Linked DNA regions of Homo sapiens. The protein of the gene in region 2 purifies or fractionates together with the protein of the main gene of each other region. This does not show direct contact. Each region holds a gene or a part of one and is shown on either strand. Other genes may lie near its edges.

The links. The genes of interacting proteins can lie anywhere in the genome.
Region 1: the proteins of PTPRM (region 2) and CIP2A purify together in Homo sapiens (affinity purification with mass spectrometry, with the first as the bait; one large-scale study listed by BioGRID). This does not show direct contact.

Annotation. Positions count from the first base shown.
Region 1 is NC_000003.12:108,568,833-108,572,489, reverse strand, and holds part of CIP2A (protein CIP2A), read left to right. Parts: intron 1-2,882; coding exon 2,883-3,101; intron 3,102-3,657.
Region 2 is NC_000018.10:7,570,215-7,573,871, forward strand, and holds part of PTPRM (receptor-type tyrosine-protein phosphatase mu isoform 1 precursor), read left to right. Parts: intron 1-3,657. UniProt on the Homo sapiens protein: Receptor protein-tyrosine phosphatase that mediates homotypic cell-cell interactions and plays a role in adipogenic differentiation via modulation of p120 catenin/CTNND1 phosphorylation.

The sequences.
Region 1 (3,657 bases), on a different chromosome or scaffold from region 2:
ATGGTCTTCAGATTGACAACAGTAGAGTCTTAAAAGTATGGTCATTTCAATAAATGACGCTGGGTCAATTGAATATACATATGGGGAAAAACTGAAATTTGACCCCCTTCCTCATACCAAATGCAAAAATCAGTATAAGACAGGTTGTAGATTTAAATGTGAAGAGTAAAAATAAGGAACGTTTTAGAAAAAACACCTAAAGAGTATCTTCATGGCCTTGGGGTAGACAATGATTTTCTTAAACAGGAAACAAAAGCACTAACTATACAGTAAGAAAGTCGATAAGTTGGGCTACATTAAAATTAAGTTTCTATTTATGAAAAGACCACTAATAAAAGAATGAAAAGTCAAAGAATGGGAATAGATATTTACAATGCATATATCTAACAAAGGACTCTTATCCAAAATATATTATTTTTCTACATTGTATGTATATATCCGAAAAAACACAGAGCCGAACAGATACTTGAGCAAAAAAGTTGAATTGGTCAATAAACATGAAGTGATTTACCACTTTATCAATCTTAAGGGAAATGCAGATTTAAATGGTAGTATCATACCATCTGACACCCACCAGTTGATTAAAATGAAAAATAAGGAAAATAGCAAACATACTTTAACTCTCATTTAGTACTTACAGAACAACCAATTATGAAAACTGGTATCTATTAATACTGGGCATATGTATAAACTACGACCCAGAAATCTCACTTATAGGTATTTATCCCAAAGAATTGTTTACATGTGTACAAAATGTAGTACTGCTCCTAATAGCTAACAATGATAACCCAAATGCCATTAACAGTGGAATATGTTCATTTTGGGAAAGTCATCTAGCTCTGCACTAGTAATTAGTTTTTTTACTTTTATATGTGTACATTAAAAGAAAACTAATGTACATGGAAAGCTATCTGCTTCTATGTTTATAACGGACATATGGTAAGATACACAAACAATTGGTAACATTGCTTGCCTACAGGGTTTGTCTTTTGAACCATGTGAATGTATTACCTATTCAAAAATAAATATAGTCATGCATTACATAATGACATTTTAGTCAATGACAGACACAGACTTCTTATTGCCTATGACATTATGGCCATTCTAACATGGTGGTGCAATGCATCACATGTGTTTGTGGTGATGCTGGTGTAAACAAACCTACTGAGCTGCCAGCTGTATAAAACTATAACACATATTAAGATTGTATACAGTACATAGTATTTTGATAAACGTGTTACCACTTATTCTTTGTTATTTTAGAGTGTACTTCTACTTATAAAAAAGTTAACTGTAAAACAGCCAGGCAGGTCTTTCAGGAGGTATTCCAGAAGAAGGTATTGTTGTTATTAGAGATGACAGCTCCCTGTGTGTTACTGCCCCTGAAGACCTTCCAGTGGGACAACATGTGGAGGTGGAAGTGGTGTTGATTACCCTGGCCCTGTGTAGACCTGGGCTAATGTCTGTGTTTGTGTCTTTGTTTTTAACAAAAAAAGTTTAAAAAGAAAAAGCCTACATTTTAAAAATAGAAAAAACTGATAGACTACAGATGTAAATAAAGTATTTTTGTATAGCTGTACAGTGTGTTTCTCTTACTACAAAAGAGTCAAAAACTTTAAAAATGGATAGGTTTATAAAGTTAAAAAGTTCTGCTAAGCTAAGGTTAATTTATTAGAGAAATTTTAAAAAATAGTGTAGCTTAAGCATACAGTCTTTATGAAATATACAGCAATATACAGTAATGTCCTAGGCCTTTACATTCACTCACTACTCAGTCATTAACTCACCCAGAGCAACTTCCAGTCCTGCATGTTTTGTTTATGGTAAGTGTCCTATACAGGTGTACCGTTTTTGATCTTTTATACTGTATTTTTCTATGTTTAGATACACAAGTACTTACAATTGTGTTATAGTTGCCTACAGTATTTAGTACAGTAATATTCTGTACAGTTTTGTAGCCCACGGGCAATAAAGGGACGTAGTAGGCTCTACCATCTAGGTTTGTGTAAGTACACTCTTACGATGTTCACACAACGGAATTAATGATGCATTAAGCAACATATGCATCACTAAGTGACACATGACTGTACTACAGTTTATTAAAGATTATCATTTGTTATAGTAAATGCTAATGGACTGGATTCTTTTAAATTCAGATACTATCAAGTTGATTAAAACACAAATCCCAATTATATATCATTTGTAAGAAACAGACTTTTAAAAAGTTGGAAATAGAGAGACAAGGAGATCTTAAGAAATTTTTTTTTTTTTAGTGATAAGTTGGTAGTATGTGAAATGAGGTGGAATTTATCTTAACATCTAATAAACTGGTTGATGGGGGATGTTATGGTATAAGGCCCAGTTTATAAAGTAGAGGAAAAATGGGGTACAGTAGGAGAGCTAAGGGTCATAATGCCAACCGTATGCAAACAGTGTGGAAATAACCATCCTGAAGGTTTTATATTCTATGCTACAGTATCCTTTATAGCGGTTATTGAATTTTAGGATTATAACAAGTATTACTAATTCTAATTTTATTTTTTAGGGTTTTTTTGGTCATTTATAAACAAAACAGGTTTCTGTTTAAAAATAATTTAAGTACTATGGAAGGAGTGGGAGGAGTTTAACGTTGGCTGAAGTTGACCTTCCCTCTGAGGTTCTCACAGTCCTGCTTATCAGGAGTAACCACCATTAATAAGTTTATTTTATAATCTTCTAGAACCTATTCACACATTTGAAAAATAATATTGAAAGAAAAAACTTAAGTTTTGTTTTAGAATATTTTCTTTAAAATATGTAGCATTTTCAGCTTCATCATACACTTGCTTTGTATATTAAAGTTCTGTGAAATTGATGTTTAATGAACACTTTATATTGCACAGGTTTTAGAATTACTTCTTGCCTTCTGTTCAGTGACTCAGCTGCGCCATATGCTCACTCAGATGATGTTTGAACAGTCTCCACCTGGCAGCGCCACTCTGGGAAGCCATACTAAATGTTTAGAACCTACTGTGGCTCTACTGCGCTGGTTAAGCCAACCTTTGGACGGATCAGAAAACTGTTCTGTTTTAGCATTGGAGTTGTTCAAGGAAATATTTGAGGTAATAGGATGACTGACAGATTGACTTTTCTACTTTTGTGACTCTCAGTTAACAATTTGTCTTCAAAAACATTCTTTGTAAACTTACAGTTCATACACTTGAGGAAAACATCTCAATTACTAACAGTCATACTAGACTCGCTAGGTTTTTTTCTGCCAGTCATATATATTAGTGTTTTCCTTTTTTTTCACTGAGTAGTGTGTATGTATATATATATATAGTGCTCATTTCAGTGTAATAAGTAAAGATATTAAAAAGATTTATATAATTTGTTGCCTGACTACTGGGGATAGTTACATTGTCTCTCCATTGCAATAGATGCCATCTACCAAGTTTAGTAGGCCATTGAATGGACAATAGAGGCATATTGGATTCAGTCAGTGAAATGGAGTAGAGCATGCCAGATAATGTGCTAGGCACTTAAGATACAGACAAAACTCCACATTCTGGTAGATCTTACTATCTGGGCAATTTAATATTCTCTACTATTCTCCCTGTTTATAAATCCATTCTGTCTAACCCAATATCTCCTGAAAGTATTTCCCTTCACATAACT
Region 2 (3,657 bases):
GCGTTTAGGTAGTACAGGTGTGAATCAGGGTTTTGTTTTTTGTTTTTGTATGTTGAGGAAGTTAATTCTGAATGCTAGGAGTGGCATTGACACATTTCTTTTTTATGTTTCTTCCAGAAATTGTAGTAATTGGCTGCTTTTCACTTGACATGGGAATAAATTTTAGAGCCAGAAGAGCTAGATTGTAAGCTCCCTGAGGGCAAAGCCAATTTTCGTTTTCTTCTGACTTTCTCACAAAACATTTCTCATAGATCCTTAGATGTCACAGGCATTATTACTATTTGTTGAATAAATCACTAATGAGAATCTTGATCATTTGCACATATTCAAATTGTGTGTGAATGGACCAATATATAATAAAATGGAGGGAGAGAAGTGATTGTTAAAAGTTAGACTTGGCTTGCCTTTTCCACACTGGGTTCTCTTTAGGCCAATGGACTAATCATGAGGGTTTATAAATATAATCAGTCAAGGGTTTTTGTATAACTCAGACATTATCTACACAAGGCACTCTGCCCTTTGCTTTCTGCAGTGCTCTCCTGTCCTCTTTTGGAATGGGTTTGGAATTGTTAAGATTGTTAATTAACCATTTCTGGAGGTGGACTACATGTGATTTGGATACCAGACATCAGAAATAGAATGCTAAACTTACTGGAAAAGTATTAGGATTTGGGCCTGTGATGACATTGCTTACTTATAATGATGGATTTCATTACAAAATTGTGGGTTTTTTTTTTTTTTTGGAGATAGAGTCTTGCTCTGTCGCCAGGCTGGAGTACAGTGGCACGATCTTGGCTCACTGCAACCTCCACCTCCCGGGTTCGAGCGATTCTCCTGCCTCAGCCTCCCGAGTAGCTGGAACTACAGGTGTGCACCACCACCACCGCCAGCTAATTTTTGTATTTTTAGTAGAGACGGGTTTTCACCATGTTGGCCAGGATGGTCTCAATCTCTTGACCTTGTGATCTGCCTGCCTTGGCCTCCCAAAGTGCTGGGATTACAGACATGAGCCACCGTGCCCAGGCTGAAAAATTGTTTTTTATCATTACCGTTTCTAATTTGTTAGGCAAAATAATGGAGGTTCACTTTATATCTTCTAGGTCTTTAGTGTTCACTAAAAATAACTGGTAAGATGGTATATAAGTAAGACATGAGAAAGAAAGTTAAATTATTTTACCTTTGTTGGAAATTCCCTTTTGCATGGTGAGAAACCAACGAGTTGGCAAGTTGTTCCTCTTTGACCCAATTTCTTAAAAGCCAAGTTGCAACATATATTATATAATACAATGAAGTGTTTAGTTCTACCTTATAATGGTTTTGATGTGTTAAGTTCTGCTAAGCAAGCTTTGGTTTGCAGAAATAGAAATATAGACTTAGCTCTTTGTTTCAGCTACAGTGGTATTTGAAATATATTAAATGTTAACATAACCTTGTGAATTTGGGACTCGTGGAGAAATTAATTTTTTAAAATATTTTAAGGATGTTTGTGGGAAAACAGCTGAAATCTGAATAAAGCCTGTAATTTAGTTAGTAGTGTGGTACCAATGTTAATTTCTTAGCTTTGGTAATTCTGCTCTGTGAATGTAAGATGTTAACATTAGGGGGAAGCTGGGTGAAGGGTGTACTTGCACAGTTTGTATTGTTTTTGCAAGTCTTCTATAAATCTGAAATTTTTTCAAAATACAGAATTTTAAAGCACCCTTTGCAAAGAGTGGTAATATGTTTGTTTAGCAGTTAAGTTTATTTTTTCTTTTTCAGATAACTATAGTCATAGCATTTTACATTTTCAAGGTGCTTTCGCTAGATTGAAAATTGATAATGAAGAAAATACTTCAAATTTAAATCAGTGAGCATGAAAGAAATATGCTAAGAAATTACTATAACATTCTTAGTGTTCTGTATATGTAAAGAAGAATTGCTTGAGCATAATAAATTGTTCCGATCTAGAAAATTATAGGTTTTAGTCTCTCATGTTTTCAAAGGGTTATTTTTACAGATTTTAAGAAAAGAATCTATTGACATGTAGTGATATATGGATAAGTGTGTATATAATTTTGGTAATTCAAAATGAATTTTCTTTAATGAACAAGTAATTTGAATTATGTCTTCAGATTATATAAATTCTTTATAAATGAAGCATAGCCTAGCCTTTAGATTTGGTAAAAGTTGGTTTCAGAATTTAAGCAATTCTGTGACAATTCTAGAAAAGTCAATACCTTTATTTAAATTTTTCATAATTCTCTAAGGATTGTAATATATTCTAGGAATTGTGAGGCTGTATACAGTAGAGGAACTATGTATTAGATTAAATATTGTTTTCTTTCAATTTTTGTTTTAGATTTCATTAAGTTTCTAGAATGAGCATGTATTATCTAAATATCCCAAGGCTTAGTTTTCATTTAGGGAATCAGGCATTTTAATGAGTTTTATGCTTTTCAACAGTGAAACATTTTTCTTAGGGGTTATGTCCACCATGCATTTTACTTTAGTTCTGAGATTCTTCTCTTTGAAAACCAACTTTCCTATAGTTTCACTTTTTAGTGTGCTTACTATCTTTATGAATATAACATGCATGTTAATAGGCTTATTTTATAAGCGAGGGAAGGTTTAATTATTAATGTCTTTCCAACTCACAAACATTCTAAAAAGGTACAAAATAATGTAAATCTTGCATTATAAGAGGATGTTGCTTTTTTGCTTCCTAAAATACCGCGGTGGTTTTCAGTTTAGTCATCAGAAAGCCTGAGTTGACACTGTAGCTCTGAAAAACCCAGCAGAGAAAAATAAGTTGGGCTGCCTTGGGTGGAGAGGAGGAAAGATTTAGTCACCAAGCTTCCTAGTCTGTAGTGCCCCCATCATTGGTGAGGAGGCTGGCAAGGCCAGGGCATAATTAAGGGTCTGGGAGTATGTGAGAGAAAAAGACAAAAACAGGATGAGAAGAGAAGTGTTGTGTACTCAGGTGTGGGATGTGACAAGCTCTAGAGATCTTAGCAAGGGAGGGTCACTCCCCTTGTGCCCTCTTAGCTATGAAGGAGAAACACATGGAAAGTTGAAGGAGGGCCATGAAGAGTGGCAGTTGTGCAGGTAGATCACAGTGACATCCTGCCTCAGTGACGTTAGGTGGCTCTGGGGAGGGCCTGGGAAACTGCACCAGTGTTGATGGTGAGCTAGGTTTTAATCTGTGCTTCTCAAAACCTGCTGTCCACGGGGAGCATCTGGAGGCCTCCTTTCAAAGGCTGCTTCCTGGGGCCCAGCTGTGGTGATTCTGATGTCCACGACAGAGGTCCCCCAGCATCCCTGGGTGGTCAGGGTTTGTAGCCACAGTTGAAGAAACGTTGTCCTGAAAGAGGAGGTTTTTGTTTTGTTTTGTTTTGTTTTGTTTTGTTTTTTTTGAGACAAAGTCTCGCTCTTGTCCCCCAGGCTAGAGTGCAACTGAGTGATATTGGCTCACTACAACCTCTGCCTCCCGGGTTCAAGCGATTCTCCTGCCTCAGCCTCCCGAGTGGCTGGAATTACAGGTGCCTGCCACCACGCCTGGCTAATTTTTGTATTTTTAGTAGAGACGGGGTTTCACCATGTTGGCCATGGCTGGTCTTGAACTCCTGACCTCAGGTGATCCTCCTGCTTCCACCTCCCAAAGTGCTGGGATTACAGGCA